Regions from separate parts of the Homo sapiens genome. Here regions 1, 2 and 4 are each linked to region 3. The links come from fine-mapping of genetic effects on gene expression. A gene starts in region 3. Each other region holds a variant in brackets. All regions are shown on one strand. Distances are between the middles of the regions. Region 1 overlaps DTNB (dystrobrevin beta). Region 2 overlaps DNMT3A (DNA methyltransferase 3 alpha). Region 3 holds the start of DNMT3A (DNA methyltransferase 3 alpha). Region 4 has its middle 20 kb from the start of DNMT3A.

Region 1 (5,372 bases), 41 kb before region 3:
CACAGATGTCAGAAATCCCACTTTTAGAGGAAATTTCTCAGGGAATTTCGGGCCATGGGAATTAACTACACTTGTACTTCATGGCCACTTATTAGAGTTTATGCAAAATAAGTGGCTTCTGCGTTCATCGTGCTAGGGTGAGAGGTCATTAAATACCATTAAGTGGAAAGCACATAGAGACCAAATAGCTTCACAAAAATGTAAAGCTTATAGGAATCCTCAGCAGTGTCTCATAGTAAGAAAGGATGGTTTCAACAAAATTATGTAGTGTAATTTGGAAGGTGCCTTAGAGAGCACATTGTCCAGTCCCTTACTTTAGAGATGTAGCCTGTGCTTATCAGAAAAGTGGTCTGCCTAAGGTCGTGCAGCTTGAAGGGGGAAAGCTGGTCCTAGAACCTGGGTCTTCAGAGCATCAAGCCAGAGATCTTACTCCCCTCCAGGACAAGATAGCAAACCCAGAGTCCCAGAGGCCCCTTTCCCTGATGCTGTCCTCTCAGTCACTGAAGCCTGTAGGTAGACGTGGACCAAAGCCACACATGGCACGGTATCCCTCTAACATGCAGACATAAACTCCCTTTACATGTGAGGGTGCCAATTTCTCAGTGAATGGAATAGCTTCACCCATCACCAACATGTTTTTACTGTCTCCTTGACAGTGACTTGACAGGTTTTTGTTCCAATGAGAGGACATACTCAGATTATCTTTACATATATTCTATACAGTGTATACATACTGTATATACATAGCTTGTAGTCCTCATCTTTATAAAGTTTTTTCACAGATAATCGAATCCTAGAATTGGAAAGGATCGAGGCCACAGGCACAGTGGCTCACACCTGTAATCCCAGCACTTTGGGAGGCTGAGGCAGGTGGATCACCTAAGGTCAGGAGTTTAAGACCAGCCTGACCAACATGATGAAACCCCGTCTCTACTAAAAATACAAAATTAGCCTGGCATGGTGGTGCATGTCTGTAATCCCAGCTACTCGGGAGGCTGAGGCAGGAGAATCGCTTGAACCTGGGATGCAGAGATTGCAGTGAGCCAAGATCGCGCCGCTGTAGTCCAGCCTGGGCAATGAGCAAAACTCCATCTCAAAAAAAAAAAAAGAAAAGAAAAGAAAAAAATTGTAAAGGATGTTAGAAGTCATTTAATCCAACTCGCCACCCAATAAAACAGTCCTCTGAATATTTCCAGCGAGCTCATTCATGATCAACTCTAATCACTGGAAACTTCTTCCTCAGTGGGGAGCCAAAATCTCACTTTCTGTAACTGATTTATCCCTGTCCTCTCAAGCTACCCAGGATAAGCTCAGTCCCTCCTCTGCAGGCTCGCCTTTCACGGGTTGGATGGCAAATGACAACCCTTCCTAGTTTTCTCCTCTGTAGACTGCTACACCCAATTCCTTCAACCTTTCCAAACGTGACATGGTTTTCTCTTACCAGCCTGCTTGACCATACCAGGATGTGGCCATTTTCCAAGGCTCCTATTCAAAGTACATGCCCAGGGCCCAGCACCCTGCTCTCCATCACAGGGGATCTTGTCCCTGCAGAGCACAAGGCATCTGTGACCCTCTTGAGTGTCCCCTGGAAAAGCACCTTAGACGGCATTAGCACTTCCCACATAGCCACTTTGCACTGTGCGGTCATTTTAAGTTTATCATCAGCTAAAACATACGGAATTTTTTTTTTTTAACAGAACCCCGTGTTAATCTAGGTATTCCCCCACCATATATTGTATGGTCACTTTCTTAAACCTGAATGCAAGACATTAGATGTCTCCCTGGTCATCACCACCTGAGGGCAGACAGGCATAGAACAGAGGCACGCAACCCCACACTGCACGCCCCCAGCCCTGGTCAGGAAAGTGAGCGATGTGACCGCACTGCTCCCTTTGGGCTGTGGTCTTACGGGCTCCTATTCAGCAGTGCTGGGGCGTGGGCCGCACAAGTGCAGACTGGTGAGCTGAAGCACCCTCAGAGGCCTGCAGCCAGGAGCTGTTAGCTAGAGTTTCCTCCCAAGCCTCAGCAGTTGCTTTGTTCACCCTCCTTCTGTACTTGTCCTGTGCCGAAGGGTCACTGGCCTCCTTGGACTTGTTTTCACAGCAGAGGAAGGTGCAGAGGAAGAAGAAGAGAAGATGCAGAATGGGAAAGACAGAGGTAAAGGCAGCTCAGCAGGACTGCTCGTTTAAATGGGGAGCCCGAGCTCATGGATCAGCCGCCCCCCACTTTGTTTCTGCATTCCTCCCTGCCACCACCTTTCCCAGAGCTTTCGGACCCGAGGTCCCTGTACCTACTTTTCCCATCTGACAGTCAGGTTTTACCTTCCAGGTGACAAGGTCAGTCGATCACCAAGAGCTTCCTCATTTCCTGATCCTGGGATAGGTAGTTGGGATACAGGAAGTAGATACAAGTAGAACACAAAAGATGACCCTTTGACTGGAGAAGTTTATGATCTAGTTAATAAAGCAAGACCAGGCCAGGTGCGGTGGCTCACGCCTGTAATCCCAGCACTTTGGGAGGCTGAGGCGGGTGGATCACAAGGTCAGGAGTTCAAGACCAGCAGGCTGGCCAACATAGTGAAACCTCATCTCTACTAAAAATACAAAAAATTAGCCAGGTGTGGTGGCAGGCGCCTGTAGTCCCAGCTACTTGGGGAGAATGAGGCAGGAGAATCACTTGAACCTGGGAGGCAGAGATTGCAGTGAGCCGAGATCACACCACTGCACTCCGTCCTGGGCAACAAGAGTGAAACTCCATCTCCAAAAAAAAAAAAAAAAA[AG/G]ACCAAAAATGCAAAATAAATAGATCAAATGAAGTGGCAGAAAAAGCTAATCATAAAACTTTCAGCATATAAGTATAATAAGGGTTTCTGAAAAGGAAGAGATTGTTGTGGACTAGAATAGCCAAATGGTTTTGTGGCTTCATGGAAGAATAAAACCAAGAAGGGAAGGTGTCAGCAAAGGACAGTAGTGCCTTCCTAGTTTCATTATATATCGAACCTGCTTAACACATGACATCTGGGAAGAGCTGCAGGGAATGATTTTCACGTATGATGATCTCATCTAATCCTTAACACTGTGAGACAGATTCGAATATCCCCATTTTACCCATGAGGAAATAGGCTCAGAGAGATGTTGTTCATGTAGCTGTTAAACGGCAGAGATTTAGGCCAGACGTGGTGGCTCACACCTGTAATCCCAGCACTTTGGAAGGCCGAGGCGGGCGGATCACTTGAGGCCAGGAATTCGAGAGCAGCCTGGCCAACATGGTGAAACCCTGTCTCTACTAAAAATACAAAAATAAGCCAGGTGTGGTGGTGCATGCCTGTAATCGCAGCTACTCGGGAGGCTGAAGCAGGAGAATCCCTTGAACTCAGGAGGCAGAGGTTGCAGTGAGCCAAGATCACGCAACTGCACTCCAGCCTGGGCAACAAAGAGAGACTCTGTCTCAAAAAAAAAAAAAAAAAAAAAAAAAAAGGCAGAGAACTGGGTCTTTCTGACTCCAAACTTCGTGCTCTTAATCTTCATCCTTCTATGTTATACTGAACAGAAAACAAAATTTTCTTTGGACATTTGAGGGTGAGCTGTTCTTTCTGTTGTGCATTAATGTGTTAGTTGCTGGATTCCTCCTAAACATCAGCTCCTCAAGGCAGAGATTTTAGTCTGTTTTGTTCATGTTGTGTTCCAGTGCCTGGTGCTTAGTAGGAGGTCAATAAATGAACAAATCAAAGGAAATAAATGGGGTGATGAGATAGAGAGTACCTTATCGGGGAGAGAAATGCAATGGCTGGTCACCCCAAGGAGGTGAAGGTAGGGAGAGCAGGAAGCATGAGGAGGAGCCAGCAGCAGCCCTCCCAGGGAGGAATTCTGAACAAGGCTCGGGGGAGTGAAAGAACCTGCCAGCTGATAAATGGCACAGCCTGAGTTCAACTCCAATGCCCATGGTTTAGTCTGAGCTGAACTGGTAGACTAAGGGAAGTGGAGTGGTCTTACTTAAGGAAGGGTAGAAGCCAAGTGGGAGATACAGGTAAGGAAGCTGTGACAAGAAAGGGAAACCTACAGGACAGTGGGTCTGGAGCATTCTTGGCCCATAGGGGCTGGAGTGGCTAAGACAGGGTCGTCTTTGGAGTCTCACGGGGCAAGGAATTTGTCAGCAAGGACCCTGAAATTGCTGAGGAAGAAACTGGGAGAAGAGGAAGAAGATTCTGCAGATTCTGAAATCGTCTAGTGAGTCTGAGCTAGGCCTGGGAGGAAGTGGACAGCAGCGCCAACGAGTTGATGAGAATGACATATGTGGCACGGACACCAAAAGGTCAGACTAGGCTGGGCATGGTGGCTTACACCTGTAATCCCAGCACTTTAGGAGGCTGAGGCAGGGGGATCACTTGATGCCAGGAGTTTGAGACCAGCATAGGCAACATAGCAAGACCCCATCTCTACAAAAAATAAATTAGCCGGATGTGGTAGTGCACACCTGTAGTCCCAGCTGCTTTGGAGGCAGAGGCAGGAGGACTGCTTGAGCCCAGGAGTTTAAGGCTGCAGTGAGCTATAGTCACGCCACTGCATTCCAGCCTGGATAACAGAGCAAAGCCCTATCTAAAAAATAAAAATAAAAGGTCACATTAGAGAGCAGTAGTGTTTCAGACATCCAGGAATGCTTCATAGAAATGTAGAAACAATTGACTTACCCACACAGACAAGAAAGAAGGCAGGAGGGCAAAAGGTGAAGAGATACACAGATAAATTTACACTGGTGTAAACACATGCTGCAAACACGCGCACACACACGCACACGCACATGCACATGCACATGCCAACCAAATCCTAGCATTCATGTGGAATGTTCCTGGCTGAAGACATAACAGCTGCATCTCTGGCCTCCCTTCACCTGCCCCTCCCTTCCCCAGTAGCTTTTTCCCATGGCCTCTCCTCAGTCCTTTTCACTCCACCAAAGCAAACCTAGGACTGCCCCAGCCACTGAGGCCTTGCCCTGGCCACGAACTCTAGCCCTTATCCTGGTTCGAGTCTGAGTGTGGGCCATGCCTCACATGGGAATCAGACTGGGTTTCCCTTGCCCAGCCCTCCAGGCCCCAGGGTGCTGTCTCTGCACCTGCACTCCCCTGTCCACATCAAACTGGGTTTCCCTTGCCCGGGCCTCCAGGTCCCAAGGTGCTGTCTTTGCACCTGCACTCCACTGTCCACATCAGACTGGGTTTCCCTCGCCCGGGCCTCCAGGCCCCAGGGCACTGTCTCTGCACGTGCACTGCCCTGTTCGCATCAGACTGGGTTTCCCTTTCCCGGCACTCCAGGCCCCAGGGCACTGTCTTTACACCTGCACTGCCCTGTCTGCATCTCTTCTGTCTTTCTGTGCCTCTT
Region 2 (5,372 bases), 25 kb after region 3:
GAGCAAGGGTCCATCTCAAAAAAAAAAAAAAGAAAGAAAGAAAAAATCTATTCAGTTCCTGGGTTTAGATAGCAGAGTATGGCCACGAGCGATACCTGTGTAGTTTTGTCAGGTAAAAAGACAGTTCGACAGCAGAGGGCATGGTGATGACGGCACTCGTGCCCCAGTCTCAGTGGGAAGGCTGGCCCTCTCTGGCTCATGCCAGGTGACTGGCATGCGGCCTCTTTTCCCCTTCATCCTGGAGCCTCCCTTCCCATCTCTCCTGTACTGGATCTTATGCGTATTAGAGGACATCTTCCTGTCCTTCCTGGGAAAGGAGCGTGAGGCCTCATATGTCTGAAGATGTCTTTACTAGGGCCCAGCACGGTGGCTTACGCCTGTAATCCCAGCACTTTGGGATGCTGAGGTGGGAGGATCACTTGAGCCCAGGAGTTCAAGATCAGCCTGGGCAACATAGTGAGACCCCATCTCTATTTAAGAAAAAAAAAAGACCCCGGGCGTGGTGGCTCATGCCTGTAATCCCAGCACTTTGGGAGGCTAAGGCGGGCGGATCACCAGGTCAGGAGCTCGAGACCATCCTGGCTAACATGGTGAAACCCCGTCTCTACTAGAAATACAAAAAATTAGCCGGGTGTGGTGGTGGGCACCTGTAGTACCAGCTACTTGGGAGGCTGAGGCAGGAGAATGGCATGAACCCGGGAGGTGGAGGTTGCAGTGAGCCGAGATCCCACCACTGTACTCCAGCCTGGGCGACAGAGCAAGACTCCGTCTCAAAAAAAAAAAAAAAGAAAGAAAGAAAAGAAAAGGGCCAGGCGTGGTGGCTCACACCTGTAATCCTAACACTTTGGGAGGCCGAGGCAGGCAGATCACGAGGTCAGGAGATTGAGACCATCCTGGCTAACACGGTGAAACCCTGTCTCTACTAAAAATAGAAAAAAAATTAGTCAGGCATGGTGGTGGGCGCCTGTAGTCCCGGCTACTTGGGAGGCTGAGGCTGGAGAATGGCATGAACCCCTGAGGCAGAGCTTGCAGTGAGCCGAGATTGCACCACTGCACTCTAGCCTGGGCGACAGAGCGAGACTCCATCTCAAAAAAAAAAAAAAAAAGAAAAGAAAAAAGAAAATGTCTTTATTTTACTCTCACACTTAAATGATAATTTGGCTGAAAATAATTCTAATTGGAAGATTGTTTAAGATTTGGTTTATTCTTTAAGAATTTTGGCTGGGCACGGTGGCTCACACCTGTAATTCCAGCACTTTGGGAGGCCAAGGTGGGTGGATCACTTGAGGTCAGGAGTTCAAGACCAGCCTGGCCAACATGGCGAAAGCTGTCTCTACTAAAAATACAAGAATTAGCCGGGAGTGGTGACGGGCGCCTGTGGTCCCAGCTACTCGGGAGGCTGAGAAATGAGAATCACTTGAACCCAGGAGGCGGAGGTTGCAGTGAGTGGAGATCATGCCACTTCACTCCAGCCTGGGCAACAGAGAAAGACTCCGTCTCAGAAAACAAAAACAAACAAAAAAACCCAACTGATCGGAAGCTCTGAGAATGATAGTGGACTTGTTGGTTTTCAAGTCTACATAGGCTGACCTGAATAAGTCATTTTGACCCCATTTTGGTACTGATGTTGGTATTGGCATCCTTAAACCTTTCCTCTTAGACTCATTCGATTCTCCAGAGAAGGAAATGGTTGTCTGGCTGCCAGTATTCTTAGAGCCCAATCGGGGAATAGCCTGAGAGACTGGACATCAGCATTTAAAATAACCTTCCCGGCCGGCGCGGTGGCTCATGCCTGTAATCCCAGCACTTTGGGAGGCTGACGTGGGCAGATCACCTGAGATTGGGAGTTCGAGACCAGCCTGACCAACATGGAGAAACCCCATCTCTACTAAAAGTACAAAATTAGCCAGGCTTGGTGGTACATGCCTGTAATCCCAGCTACTCGGGAGGCTGAGGCAGGAGAATCGCTTGAACCCGCGAGGCGGAGGTTGCGGTGAGCCGAGATCGCGGCATTGCACTCCAGCCTGGGCAACAGGAGTGAAACTCCATCTCAGAAAATAAATAAATAAATAACCTTCCTCTCCTTGGTTTGATATATCATCTTTGTCTTCAGCTGTGCCAAGTGACTCTGTGCAAAGACCCCCTATTTTATGCCCTCCAGTGACTACAGATAAACCTTCAAACTTGTAGAAGAGGGTCTAGGAATTCACTACTCTCACTCAGCCTCTCGTTTCTCACACAAGCATCCTCTTCAGCCCTAGTGCCAGAGTACCTGGTGCTGTCATATAAGCATCTGTTGAAGACTGTGTTATATATCAGCGTTCACACGCCTGTCTGAAATTTGGCTGTCACAAGTCTGCTTTCCAGATTCCACAATTTTGTTGGTGGTATTCCTTCTCTTGTTCAGCCTAATCTTGTGATTTTATGTCTTAAAAAATCTTTTGGCCAGGTGTGGTGGCTCATGCTTGGAATCCCAACACTTTGGGAGGCTGAGGTGGGAGGATCCTTTGAAGCCATGTGTTCAAGACCAGCCTGGGCAACATAGGGAGACCCTGTTTCTACAAAAAAAAAAAAAAAAAGCCAGGTGTGGTGGTACATGGCTGTAGTCCCACCTACTCAGGAGGATGAGGTGGGAGGATCACTTGCACTTGAGCCCAGGAGTTTGAGGCTGCATTGAGCTATGATACT[A/G]CCACTGCATCCAGCCTGGGTGACAGAGCAAGAACCTGCTCTAAACAAACAAACAAAAAATGTTTCTATTGCATTGAGTTTAGAAGGTAGTGAGCCTTGGTATGCATATTCAAAGCTTTCAGTTCTTTTTCCACAACAGTTTTATAGTTGACGCAGTGGAGATGGTGATCATATCAGCTGTGATACGAAGATGTTTTCATGGTGGGATTCCTTGAAATTTTTTAAGTGGCTGTTAACAAACATTATTCATGGTCACTGTGGACTCTAAAAGGAGGAAATAAAAGCTGCTTTTCATGGTGGTAGGGTTCTTGGCAAGGGTTTTTTGGTGGCAGTGGTGGTGGCTGTGCAGCCCTTGGCCCAGGTGGGAAGAACGCTTTGGTATCGGAAGCAGCCAGGGCTGTGCGGTGGAAGGACCGATGTGGTGGACACCCGCTGCTGTGTTGGGACTGTGGGCCCAGGAGAGCCCACTCCCCATGGCTGGGCTGCCTGAAGGAAGAATGAAGCGTCTACGGGTAGGTGGGCAATGCTATGTCAAGGTCTGGGACCTTGGCCACCAACTGGGGCCCCCTAGGGTTGTGTAGTACATGGCCCGCCCAGACACATACTGGAGGATTTTAGGTGATGGACACGATTTTGAGGGACTGCTACTGACAGGGCTGGTCCATTGAGCAACACGAAAGGGTTGACCCAGGTCAGCTGCATTTTCTGTGAGGACAGTTTCTGCAGCTCAGATGTCAGAGTCTTGGGTGGAGGAAGGGGAGGAGGAAGAGAATCTTCCTTTCCTTTCCTGTCTGGGGTGTCTGCCCTTGGGGCCAATGCCCTGTGAAGTTCTGCTTTTCCCTCCAGCTTCCTTCCTCTCCAGAGCTTCTCTGAACCTCGCCACACCCGTGGCGGCACAGATGCCCTCTGGGTGTCCCTAAGCCTAGGGCAGCATCAAGACAACCCTCCCGCCCCGCTTCCTTTGTGCCTGGGTCTCCCCCGACTCCATTTGGGGTGCCCTGTCCTTGTCAGCCCCTTGTGTGTCCACTGTGCCTGTGGGGCCGCAACAGCTTCCTTGGCCGGTCAGAGCTATTAATAGAAGGGGTCCTGCTCTCCCATTTCATTGGTGGGGAAACTGAGGGCCGGGGAAGCCTCCGTCAGGAGTAGATCCCACCCCTGCGGACTTTGGGCTCAACGTTCTTTCCAATCAGACTCTGCCCCTCTTAGCTTCTGACCCTTTCGAAGGTTTTTGTTTTAGTGTGGCTGGAGATGTCTGTGGTAACAAATGGGGAGTGAGGCTTGACAGGGAATCACTGGCTGCTAAGGGCTGGCAGCCGAGTGCTTCTGGGTTGGACCAGTTCTCTTTTGGGATCTTCAGAGTTGCTTCTGTGGTGTGTGTTGGGGGACGTGAACCCAACCCCTCAGAACTTTAGTGTCAGAGAGATCTGGGTTCATGCCTCTGATGGGTCCTGGCCTTGTTGATCTTACCGTCACCTGTAAACTGGGCACGGCACAGCAGCTGCCCAGATGCAGAGCACGAGCCAGGCCCTGAGTGGCATGTGGCCGATGGAGCTGCTCTCCGCTGCCGTCCACCCTCTCGGGACCCGGGCAGCAAACCTTCCTTAAGCCCAGCACTGCGCTGTGCCTAGGGGTATGGGGAATGGACGCAGTGCACCTGGGCTGCCTCAGGGCTCAGCTGTGGGGCAGGTCCGCTTCAAGCCTTTCTGGGTTGACCTGATGGAGCTCTTCCTGTCCTGGCCCTAAGAAGCTCCTCCTGCCAGCTCCTTCCTCCCACTACCCCCTGGGGCACAGCCAGGGCTGGGGCACCCACTCCCAGGCAAGAATGCACCCCTGGAGAAAGGGGCTAGGCCTGTAGGAGAGCCAAGCCTGTGCTTTCTCCCGGTCCTGGTTTTCCAGGGAGCCCTGACTGGAGGGGGATGGGAGGAGAAGCCCAGGAGGGAGGGGGAGCTGGGGAAGCAGAACCAGGAACTGGAAGGGGAAGGGTGTGGGTGGGCCCAGATCCAGCCTGCCTCCCGCTCTCCCTTGCCTGCCAATCCCCTCCTGGGCCCTGGCACACTCAAGGCAGGGGCTTGGCGGCCGCCTCCTCCGGGGGTGGGGAGCAGGGGAGCTCTTGTGTGTCTCTGAGTGAGGGGGCTGAGACAGCAACACCCCCACCCCAGCTGTGGCCTGAGCTGCAGGCTTTGTTATTTCTCTGGCTTGAGGCCTACACCTGGAGCAGAGGGAAGAAAAGCCCCTAAACTCAGCCGTGTGGGTTCAGAGGACCCCTCAAGCCCACCAACTCTGCAGGCAAATGAGGCTGGTTCATGGGGTGGGGGAGAGAGCAGCCTCACTCCTGCCTCAGTGTGGCCGTGGCCTGTGGCCTTGGCCGTGGCCGTGGCCTCTCCCTCCTAGGCCAGAGCCAACCAGGCCTGCAGCCTGAGCTCAGACCTCAGCTTTCTCTGGGCCCAGGCACCGGTCCTGAAGTGAGGTGACATTCATTTCACTACATCCTGTGACTGCACTCACTTCCTCCACGTGGCGGGAGGTGTGGGGGTGGGGGTGAGGACAGATTAGAAGGAAAACGTAGCTGGGCTAGGGGCCTCTGGGGGAGGCTGGGATTTCCCAGGGGCTGGTTGGGGTGGGAGGGAGGATGCGGGAAGCTTTCAAAGGAGAGAGAGGCTGTGAATGAAGAGAAGGGAGGAGGC
Region 3 (5,372 bases):
AGAAATTTACATTTGCTCATCATGGCCCTGAGAATTTCAGCTTTTTTTTTTTTTTTTTTTTTTTGAGACAAAGTCTTGCTGTGTTACCCAGGCTGGAGTGCAGTAGCACGATATCAGCTCACTGCAACTTCCGCCACCCAGGTTCAAGCGATTCTCCTGCCTCAGCCTCCCGAGTAACTGGGTTTACAAGCATGCGCCATGACACCCAGCTAATTTTGTATTTTAAGTAGAGACGGGGTTTCACCATGTTAGCCAGGCTGGTCTTGAACTCCTGACCTCAAGTGATCCTCCCGCCTCGGCCTCCCAAAGTGCTGGGGTTACAGGCGTGAGCCACTGCACCCACTGAATTTCAGCTTCTTAAGAGCAACTATGTTTCAAAAGTGTGGTGTGGGCTGGGCACGATGGCTCATGCCTGTCATCCCAACACCTTGGGAGCCTGAGATAGGAGCATCACCTGAGCCCAGGAGTTCAAGACCAGCCTGATCAACATAGAGAGGCCCCTATCTCTACAAATAATAATAATAAATTAGCCAGGCATGGTGGTGTGCATCTATAGTCCCAGATACTCAGAAGGCTGAGGCAGGAGGATTGGTTGAGCCCAGAATGTCGAGGCTACAGTGAGCCATGATCACTCCACTGCACTCCAGTCTGGGCAACAGAGCGAGACTGTGTCTCAATAAAAGAAAAAAAAAAAAGATGTGATGTGGGGTGATTTCAGAGCCGGATGAACCTGGCTTTGAATCCTGACTCTGCCACTTCCCAACTGTATGGCTTTGACTAAGACTGAGCCTCAGTTTCTTCATCTGTAGCGTGAGGAGAGTACAAGCCATATCACAGGGCTAGTGAAGACTAGAGAAAATACCATGTCTGGTGCCTGGCACATAGTAGACACTCAGTAAACAGTCGCTGCTGTTTGGGGCCGTGTTATATGTAAGCCCTTGATGAAGGCAGAGGTATCTCAGTCATCCTTCTATAAACGGTCTTCTCCTTTGCCAAGCTGGGTGCGCCATTTAGAGTGTTCACGGATGCCCCTCCTGATGTAGAAAGCGAACAGCCCAGGAGGGTCACATGTTAATTCCACCAAGGTTTACTGAGAATCTCCTAGCACCAAGTGCTGGGCTACAGGGATGACAGACGCGGCCCCTGTCCTCACAGAGCACTGGGAGTCTCTGGGCCGGTGGGGACCATGGACAGCAGGGCCTATCATCAGTAGGGCGGGGTGGCCACTTGAGTGAGGGTGACACTGAAAACGGCCAGAACTATGGCCTAGAAGCTGGTCTCAGATATCGAGGCTCAGGGTGGGGGTTGGGGAGACGGAGGGACCTGGAAGCATTGGAGAACCTCCCGAAGGAAAACCTTCCCGTCTGTATGAAAGGTCAGCTCCCGGTCCCAGAGAACTTGGCAACTCGGTTCTGTGACGCTAAAAGGGTGGCGTTGGGGGGGCGGGTGCTGGGCTGCATGGGGAGAAGGGAAAAGTAGGATCCGCTTCACTGTGAAGTGAGTCCCACCACCAACTCCAGCAATCCCTGCCCACAAGTAGGATGGCGGGTCCCTGGGAAGGGAGCACGCCATGTCCTGTGCCAGTCAGGGAGCTCAGGGCACTGTGATATAGCTGAAGTGCTGAGTAGAATTCGGGGTGCAGAGCTGCGGGTGGCTGGTGGGGTGCTGGGGCGCGCAAGGAGGCTGGAGGCGGGGGTGGGGGGGTGCCCAGCCCCAAGTCCTACAGCGGCTGCTGGAGGAGTGAGATGAGCACATAGTGAGTGGCTGTGCTGGTGGAATTAGACAGAGGTGCCCCAAGTCAGGAACCTAGAGCCCTGAGCGCTCCATGGGGAAGGAGAACAGCCCCCACGGTGAAGGGGTGAGGGCGGTGTGTAGGCACACACAGAATCTTCCAGCTGGAAGAGACCTTCAATGTCATTTCATTCAACCTCCCACCTCATGAAATCTTTCAGTCTTCCAGTGCCCAACTGAGGACACCCAACTCTACTTGGACACCTCAAGGTACGGGGAACTCACTCCCTTCAAGGCAGCTCATCTCAGAGAGGCTTTGGAGCCTGCGGGACGGCCAGGAGGAGCCTGGCGCTCCGACCTTGGCCCTGTAGAGCAGAGTGGCCTCTACTCCGCGGCGGCACCTGGCTGGGGGTTGCGGCGCGGTTGGGCCAGCGCTGCTGTCCCCAGCCCCAGTGCTGAGGCAGGCAGAGCGCAGTGGGCTCTGGCGGAGGTCGGGAGAACTGCAGGGCGAAGGCCGCCGGGGGCTCCGCGGGCTGCGGGGGGAGGCACTTGACACCGGCCCGGGGAGAGGAGGGGCCGCTGTCCCTGCGGCCAGTGCTGGATGCGGGGACCCAGCGCAGAAGCAGCGCCAGGTAGCGGGGCGCCCAGCGTGGGGAGGGCTGCGGCGAGGCCCGGAGCTCGGCTACGACTCGAGGGGCTCTGAGTGGCCGGGAGCGCGGCCGAGGCGGGGCGCCCGGGGCCCGGCCCCCGGTCTGGGCGGTGCGGGGTCCAGACCTCCGCCAAGCGGCGTGCGGGGACCCCGGCGGGGCCGCAGAGGCCGGGAAGTCGCGCCGAGGGCGCTAGGACCGGCCGCGCGCCCAGGCCGCTCCCGCCGCGGCGCCCCGGGGCCCCCCAGTCGGCGCTGCCTCCCGGGCCGGCTCCGCAGCGCCGGGGCCGGGGCCAGCGCGGCCGCGGGGGGCGAGCGGCGGGCGGAGGCCTGGGCCCGCGGGCGGCCGGAGGGAGGGAAGGAGGAAGGCGGAGAGAAGGGGTGGGAGGGGGGGACCCGGCGGAGGAGGCGGAGAGAGGGAGCGCGACAGCGAGCGGAGGGAGGGAGCGAGCGAGCGAGGCAGGCAGGCGGGCCGGGAGGGAGGGAGGGCGCGCGGGCGGCGGCGGCGGCGAGAGCAGAGGACGAGCCGGGACGCGGCGCCGCGGCACCAGGGCGCGCAGCCGGGCCGGCCCGACCCCACCGGCCATACGGTAATGAGCGCCGCTGCTGGCGGCCCGGAAGGCCGGCCCGGAGGCGGCGGGGAGCCGGGGAGCCGGGCGGGGGGCGCCGCGGCTGGCAGTGCCCGGCTCGGGGCACGCTCCCGGACCCCTGCAACTCGGCGCCGGGCGCCCGTGGGGCCGGGACTGCAGGCGGGGACGGCGGGCCGGGCTGGCCGGGGCGGCGCGGGGGATTTGAGGGTTTGTTTATGTCCCCGCGGGCTCGGCAGGCGCCCCCTCCCGTCCCGCCCGCTCCCGGCGCGGACCCCCCTCCCCGCCCCCGCCCGGCTCCGGGCTCAAGTTCAAGTCTATACAATGCCGCGGGGGGCCCCTCCACCGCCGGCCTGCGCCGCGGTGCCCGGCTCGCCGCTGCCGCAGGGGCCCCGGCCGGGCCGCCCCCGCCTTCCGGGCTCTGCCCCAGCCCCGCGGCCCCGCCTGGAGCCCGCGGCCAGGGCGCCGGAGGGCGCGGACCCCGACCCAGAAGGATCGGCCCCCGCGGCGGCCCGGGGGAGCGGGGGAGGGGGCGGGGGCCGGGCCCCGCGCAGGCTCCGCGGCGGCGGCAGAAAATGGCAGCCTGGCACGACCCGGCCCCCCGCCCCTCCCCCCGGCGCCCGGCCCTCCTCGGCCCCGCGGGGCGGGGGACCCGGGAGGCCCCCGGGGGCGGGCCGAGGGGTGATGGCGGGGCCGGGCCGGGGAGCGCCGCGCCGCGATCCTCCTCCGGCCACCTGTGGCTGGGGGTGCGGGGCGCCGGCGGGGCCGGGAGGGGCGGCGGGGCCGGGGAGAGCGCCCGCCTTGGGGGCACACCTTCCCCCGGAGTGCCGGCGGCACGGAGAGGGGTGGTCGTGCCCGGCTCCTCCCTGTCCCCACCGCGGGCCGTGGGTGCCCGGGCGGCCGCGGTGGCGGCGCCGCAATGTGGGGGCGGGGCGGGGGCGGGCGAGGATCCCGGGCCCGGGCCCGGGCCGCGGGGGCCGGAAAACGCGGGGGTGGAAGTAGCGGGGCCGGGACCGGGAGCGGCGCAGGGGGGGTACGCCCGGGGTCGCCCCTCCAGCACCCCCGCGCACACTCCCACGCACGCGGACACACTCACGCACACGCACCCCGCCGGGCCGGTGCAGACGTGTCCTTGAAAGCTTCGCATCTGCACAGTGAAGGACGAGGCCTCGCCGCGGCTGCGGAGCGGGGTCTTCGGCCCCACGTCCCCGCACCCCGGGAGACCTCGAGCTTCGGAGCCGCAGGCGGCGGCTGTCCGTGTCCCGCCCTCACCCCAGTTCCCCTCCCCCAGGCCGCCCTGCCTTCCCTCCCCTTCGGCGCGGACCGGGCTGGCGCGGGTCCAGGGCCCGCCCCTGGCCTCCCCCAGCCCCTCATCGCTGGGGCCCGCGGCCCTGGGGCTGCCAAACTGCTTTTCGCTTTCCTGAAGCCTCCCTTCTTGGGGGCACCCTCTCCCACCCCAGCGCCCCTCTGCCATTTCTCCCCCTCTCCTCATCCCCTCCGTCCTGGCACCCTCTCTCCGCTGCACGGCCAGTTGAGGAGGTGTTGGCGCCCTGGGCGGGGAGCAGTGCCCTCTGGTTCCCAGGGGCTGCCTCCCCCGGCTCCTGAGGGGAGCCCCCTGCGGCTGCACCTTGACCCAACATGGCGTCTGGCACCCAGCAGGGCAGCTCTGGCCTGCGGCAGGCGGGAGGGTGGGCAGGGCCGAGCCCCAGGGCCGCGCAGCTACCCCCCCTCCAAACCAGCGGGGACAGAAGCCTTGGGGAGAAGCGCTGTCCGCCCTGTGACCCAACTTGCCCCTCACTGCCGTGCCCAGAGACTGCCATCAGCATCCCTGAGGGCCTGCTCAGTCTTCATGTTTCACCCTAGGCTGCCAGCGGCTGAACCCGCCTCCTGGGCGGGCGGCTACGAAGGGATCCTGGGATCAGGTGCTGCTCCAGTGTCGCCTCCTCCCTCGCGGGCAGATGTGACAGCTGCAGCCAGGGGAGCTATTCGCCTTGCTATTGCCTGGGTGTTAGGACTGGCCTGTGGGATTTGGGGGGCCAGGCATCCCGGGGACCCTCTTTGGTTGGCTAGCAGGGGCCATCTCCAGGTAGTTTTCTGAGCTGCCTGCCTTTGGAGAGTTGGGTTGTAGGGAGTTCCTGCTGGGTTTCTGGGGCAAAATGGTCCCCCTCTGCCTCCAGGTTCTACCGAGGCCCTGCTTGGGCTGTGACAGGTGGCTCTGTCAAGGTGGGAGTCTGTGTGTGCACATGTGCTGGCTCCAGGCGAGGGACCAGGCTGGCCTGTGCAGCAGCTCTGGCACCTGCCTGCCTCCCTGGTGGGTCCCCCTCCTCTGTGCAGCTCCTCCCCAGATAAGCAGCTGCGGATTCAGGCCGACCAAACTTCCCTCGTTACCCCACCCAGGCACCAGTGCC
Region 4 (5,372 bases), 20 kb before region 3:
GCCCCTTGCTAAGTCTCCTCCTTCTGTCCCTGTCTTTGCTCCCAAGGGTCCTCACCAGCGAGGGTTCTGCCTTCTTCTCTGGAGTTGTCTCATCCTCCCTGTTTCTTGGAGGCCTGTCTGGGGCCCTGCTTCTCAGGGAGGTACCTGAGGGTTCCTGGGATCCCTGGGGACCATGCCTTCCTGGACAGCTATAGGGTTCAATGGAAAAGCATGGGTTCTGGAGGGCAGGCACACCTTCATTTGAATCCTGACGCTGCTCCTTTCTAGAGTGACCTCAGGTCACTGCCTTATTCTCTGCATCTATAAAATGAAGATAATTCCAACCTATTTAGTTGTTCTAAGGATTATATTAAAATGTGTAAGAGACCTGGAGCAGGGCTGAGCACATAGCAAATGAGTAATAATGGTTGCTTTCCTTTCTTCCTCTGACACTAGTGTCTGCACCATCCACTGGGCACTGTGGGTCAAGCCACACTGAGCCGCACTGGCCAGACCCTACCTGGACTCATAGGCGAGAGGCTACAGTGATGGGGACAAGGGAACCTGGTACTGCCAGGGCCCAAGCCCCACGCCCGGTGCCAGGTGGCTGAGGATCTCCCCAGGCCTGGCACGGGTGCTCAGGCTTGGGGCGCTGATTTGTCTCCCCTGCCCAGACATGTAAAGGGCCACTTAAGGAGGTCGAGGGGTGGAGTCCAGGGCCCTGAGCCAAATCTCTGCCCAGGCTGTAGCCCTCAAGTCATGGGAAAATCTGCTTCTGGGGTGGAGGCTGGTCTTGGAATGGCAGGTAAGGAGCAGGACAGGATGGGGAGGACCACCTCGCAGACCTCACTCTCACCACCAGGTATACACACACTTGTGACTTGCTTGCCCCCTCAGTGGGTGAGCAGTTTCTTCAAGCCCTTGAAACGCCAAGGTCTTGTCACAGTTTTCTCCCGGGGCAAAGGGGCTACTTTCCCCTACACTAAAGAGAGCCCTCTCCGAACAATTTATTCTTTGCCAGAGATACTGGGCTCTGTGCAGGCTCCTAGAGGGAGCTTTCTCTACCGATCAAGAAGCATCTGCTTCCCTTATTCACTTAGCAAAAATTTCTTCTTTTTTTTTTTTTTTTTTTTTTTTTTTTTTTTTTTTTTTTTGCGGCGGAGTCTCACTCTGTCTCCCAGGCTGGAGTACAGTAGTATGATCGGCTCACCACAACCTCTGCCTCCCAGATTCAAGCCATTCTCCTGCCTCAGCCTCCCGAGTAGCTGGGATTACAGGCGCCTGCCACCATGCCCGGCTAATTTTTATATTTTGAGTAGAGACGGGGTTTCAGCATGTTGGCCAGGCTGGTCTTGAACTCCTGACCTCGTGATCCACCCGCCTCAGCCTCCCAAAGTGCTAAAATTACAGTCGTGAGCCACCGCGCCTGGCCCCAGAGATGGCTTTCTGTCCTGAGCAAGAAGGAAATATTCTGGAAGTTATACTTTCCAATGCTTTCCTCCCCACCAACCGGACAAAAGGCCAGGGGCCCACTCCAGCTGCCCTAGGGAATCCCCCAACATCTCACCTCTCCTTAGCTCCTCTGGGCTTCTGCAGTGACATCAGTGTGACTTCAGCACTGCGCTTTTTGAGCTAGCGGCTCTGCTCCGCTGCCCTCGGGCCCCACTTCCTCTAAATTCCCCGTTCCTCTCCCCGTGGCTCCACTTCTTCTTCGGGGCCGTGGCAGCGTTCTTCAATGTTCCCCGTGCACAGCCTGGATCCTGGCTGCCGCCTGTCCTACCTGTCCACGAGCTCCCCCTCTTTTTTTCCTCACTCTTGACTCAGAGAAACCCCACCCAATGCCTGCCAGATAGCGGAAGCTTAACAATCAGTTGTTAGATGTGCAAATAAAATACAGCCACAGATCGTTATATTGGTAACACAAACACAACATTCAGAGACCAAGAAAATGAAAAAGGGAGGTCTAGAAGGTCCTCACCTTCGTTCTTTTGTAAATAACGATGTCTTTATTATCAACAGGTCCCACCAAGGATTTTCCTGGTGTGTAAATTTATGAGGTGTCTTATAAAGGAATGACAAATGGAAAACACAGTTCATTATACACTTAACAAATTGCCTTTATTAAAAAAACAAAAACCAGGAAATCAGGATTGTCCTTGAGGAGTGAACACACCCAGGGGCCATGCCCCAAATGTTCTTTCTGTGTCAAGTGAGCCAACCCCGTCCCCTCTGTCCCATTCCCACACACACGTTTCCTCTTGCGCAGCTCAGGCACCGGGACTGGGTCCCCTCCCTAGCCCTGCC[G/A]GGAAGGAGAAAAGAAAGCGAGACTGAGCCCAGCCAATCAACAGTCAGCATTTCTGAAGCTCCTCCCCAAATACAAATATGCGCTCCGCCCCCGCTAGCGCCACCTGGAGGGTGAAGAGCGAAATGCGGCGACTGCACTGGGTCCTCGGCCTGGCGGAGCCGCCCACTTCGCTGGTTTTTGCAGCCGATGGAGACCCGGACTCCGCTCCGAAACCTGCTGACCGCGGTGGGGTTATTCGGAGCGGAGCCGCCGAGGGGCTGTCGAGCGCTTTTGAATCTGTTTACTTGAAATGACTTTCCCCACAACTTTCCCTGATTTCTATTCCCACTTGACCAAAAGAATGAGTTTGATGTGGAAAAGTGGCCAGAAAAGTGGCAATAGTGGTGTTAGGTGCTCAATGGCATCTCTTTGGGCTCAGCCTCCATTAAGCAAAGTAGATGCCTGGGGTGGGGAGGTGGCACCCTTTTTCCGGATCCCCAGTCAGTGGGGCAGGGGCTTCGGACACTGTCCCCACAGCTGGACTAGTGGCCCAGAGATCCTAGAAGGGACCCAGCCTTCCCGCGCTGCACCCAGACCTCCGGGGTGTGACCGCCAAGCTGTCCTGGCTCCCCTGCTCAGTGGCCTGATGGGGGTCTCAGTCCCGCACTCCCTCGTGGGGTCGGGGCACTAAAACAATCATTTTTTCAGGCCATGCTCCTTGATCCTAATTTAAAAGGCGGCCTGGCCGGACGCGGTGGCTCATATCTGTAGCTCCAGCACAGAGTTGGAGGCCAAGGCAGGCGGATCACCTGAGATAAGGAGTTTGAGGCCAGCCTGGCCAACATGGTGAGACCCCCGTCTCTACTAAAAATACAAAAATCACCCGGGTGTGGTGGCACGTGCCCGTAGTCCCAGCTACTTGGCAGGCTGAGGCAAGAGAATCGCTTGAACCCGGGAGGCGGAGGTTGCAGTAAGCCAAGATCATGCCACTGCACTCCAGCCTAGGCGACAGAGTGGGACTCTGTCTCAAAAAAAAAAAAAAATTAGCTGGGTATGATGGTGCAGTCTGTAATCCCAGCTACTCGGGAGGCTGAGGCAGGAGAATCGCTTGAACCCGGGAGGCGGAGGTTACAGTAAGCTGAGATCACGCCACTGTACTCCAGCCTGGGTGACACAGCAAGACTCTGAGACTCCATCTCAAAAAAAAAAAAAAAAAGGAGGCCTGGGAAGGATCCCCTCTGAGACATGGAAGACTTGCTTGACTCAAGGTGGGTTTTTTCCTTGAGTCCCTCAGTAGCCCTCAGGACAGTCCCTCAGGTGCCACCTGCCCTCCCCTGCAGGAGAGGTTTGTTCTGGGAGGAGAAGCCCAGACAGGCACGGGTGGCGGGAGGGCAGGTGGGCATCTGCCCCCAACAGGCCTCTCTGCTTTGGGAAGCCCAGGTGCCCTCGGGACCCTTGAGAAAGGAAAGGTGGCGGGGAGAGAGGAGGGCAGGATGAGTTTTTTTTTATTGACCACCTACTATATGCCATATGCTATGTAGATTTCTGACCACGACAGCGGCCTCCTAACAAAGGCCCAAGAAAGCTGACTTTAAAATTACATTTACATGCCCTTGAATAGCATATATTAATTTTACACAAAGGAGAATATGCCTTTAGGCTGTTTTCCTTTTTCTTTCTTTTCTGTGGCCAAAAAAAAAAAAAAAAAAAAAAAAAGTGGGAGGGGGGTTGATGGGCTTAGGACAGAAAGGAAGAGGTATGCCACCAAAATCACCTGAGAAGAGAAGGGGGGGCTGGGGGTGGGGGTGGCCTGAGAGAAGGACAGACCCTGGCCTCTCCCAGTGGATAAGGAAGAATCTTGCTCTAGCAACTTCAAGATGGTTTGCCTGGTCAAGGAGGGGAAGGGACAGGGCGAGTCCATGGGCCCTGCTCAGGGCTGGCTGCTGGGAAAGGAAGGTCTGTGTCAGTCATGGAATCCAGGAAATCTGCCAAGTTTAAGGCTCAAGGGGGATGGGGGAGCCACCTTTTCTAGGGCCACTATGGGTGGTCTTGGGGCCCTCAGAGGACTTGCTTCTTGGGCACCTGAGTTAGACCTGGCAGAACCAGCAGACACCTTAGGACCTAAGATGGGCCCTCCCTGCCACTCTCTGGGCAAGAGCCCCAAGCCCATATCTCCAGGGTCTGTGTGGAGGGCACTGCTGGGCCCCTGAGAAGTGCAGAAGGTCAGGCTTTCCTGCCCTGGCTTAGCAAAACACCCGGCCTCCATCTCCCCCATTGTTCCCTTGTCCCCACGAACATGCTAGCCCAGTTCTGCTCAGGAAAATCAGCCCCCGCAGCCCAGGTTCTTGCACCTTCCTGTCCTGAACTTCTTTGTCCCTGTCTACTCCTCTCCCCACTGTTCACAGCCCCCAACCTCCCAGGGGCCCACATTCAGCTCCTGAAATTCATTAAGTGTGGCAAGGAAAGGTCTCCACTCAAGAGATTTCAAGATGTCTGGGGACAGGCAGGTTTTCCAAATGACCCTGGAGGCCGGGTGCTTGGGACGCAGTGAGAGGGAGGGGACAGCAAGGGGAGGGCTGGGTTAGATCTGCTCAGGGACAGAGCTGTGAGCCAGTACCCAGCCTGGCAGCAGGTGGGCTGGGTGACAAGCCCTCGGCCTCAGCCAGTCTCTAGCACAAGAGAGCCCCGGGCCCCCTGGGAAATTCTGTGTGGACAGAGGGTGAGGTGAGAGTCCTGGTCTGGCCCTGGCTCTGCCGCTGGCTTGCTCAGAGCCCCCTCGGGACCTCAGCAGCCTCATCCTTAAAATGGACAAAACAAGGGCTGGGGCCAGGTGCAGTTGCTCACACCTGTAATCCCAGCACTTTGGGAGGCCGAGGCCGGCAGATCTTGAGGTCAGGAGTTCCAGACCAGCCTTATCAACATGATGAAACCCCATCTCTACTAAAAATACAAAAGATCAGCCAGGCATGATGGAGCGTGCCTGTAATCCCAGCTACTCGGGAGGCTGAGGCATGAGAATCGCTTGAACCCAGGAGGCGGAGGTTTTAGTGAGCCGAGATTGCACTATTGCACTCCAGCCTGGGCAACAGCACGAGACTCCATCTAAAAA

The links. PIP is the estimated chance that this variant, and not a neighbour inherited with it, causes the effect. A credible set is the group of variants that fine-mapping cannot tell apart.
Region 1: its variant is the best candidate, but not a certain one, in a credible set for the expression of DNMT3A in whole blood (INTERVAL, PIP 0.54).
Region 2: its variant is the best candidate, but not a certain one, in a credible set for the expression of DNMT3A in whole blood (INTERVAL, PIP 0.50).
Region 4: its variant is the best candidate, but not a certain one, in a credible set for the expression of DNMT3A in whole blood (TOPMed, PIP 0.55).

What each region holds. Positions count from the first base shown.
Region 1 is chr2:25,380,621-25,385,992 of GRCh38, reverse strand. DTNB (dystrobrevin beta) reads left to right here. Exons shown (of 21, transcript NM_021907.5): 19 at 2,104-2,157. Among named protein-coding and RNA genes, the nearest start is that of DTNB-AS1, 38 kb to the left of the region's middle. The variant AG/G (reference allele first, on the strand shown) is at 2,779.
Region 2 is chr2:25,314,433-25,319,804 of GRCh38, reverse strand. All of the region lies in intron 1 of DNMT3A (DNA methyltransferase 3 alpha), which reads left to right. Among named protein-coding and RNA genes, the nearest start is that of MIR1301, 12 kb to the left of the region's middle. RefSeq lists an enhancer at 5,254-5,372. The variant A/G (reference allele first, on the strand shown) is at 2,689.
Region 3 is chr2:25,339,421-25,344,792 of GRCh38, reverse strand. It overlaps DNMT3A (DNA methyltransferase 3 alpha), which reads left to right and starts at 2,868. Exons shown (of 23, transcript NM_022552.5): 1 at 2,868-2,967. RefSeq lists an enhancer at 1,956-2,075 and silencers at 2,196-2,675, 2,736-2,945, 3,236-3,405, 3,506-3,745, 4,026-4,145.
Region 4 is chr2:25,359,127-25,364,498 of GRCh38, reverse strand. No RefSeq gene overlaps it. Among named protein-coding and RNA genes, the nearest start is that of DNMT3A, 20 kb to the right of the region's middle. RefSeq lists enhancers at 1,757-1,806, 1,857-1,956, 2,227-2,306. The variant G/A (reference allele first, on the strand shown) is at 2,284.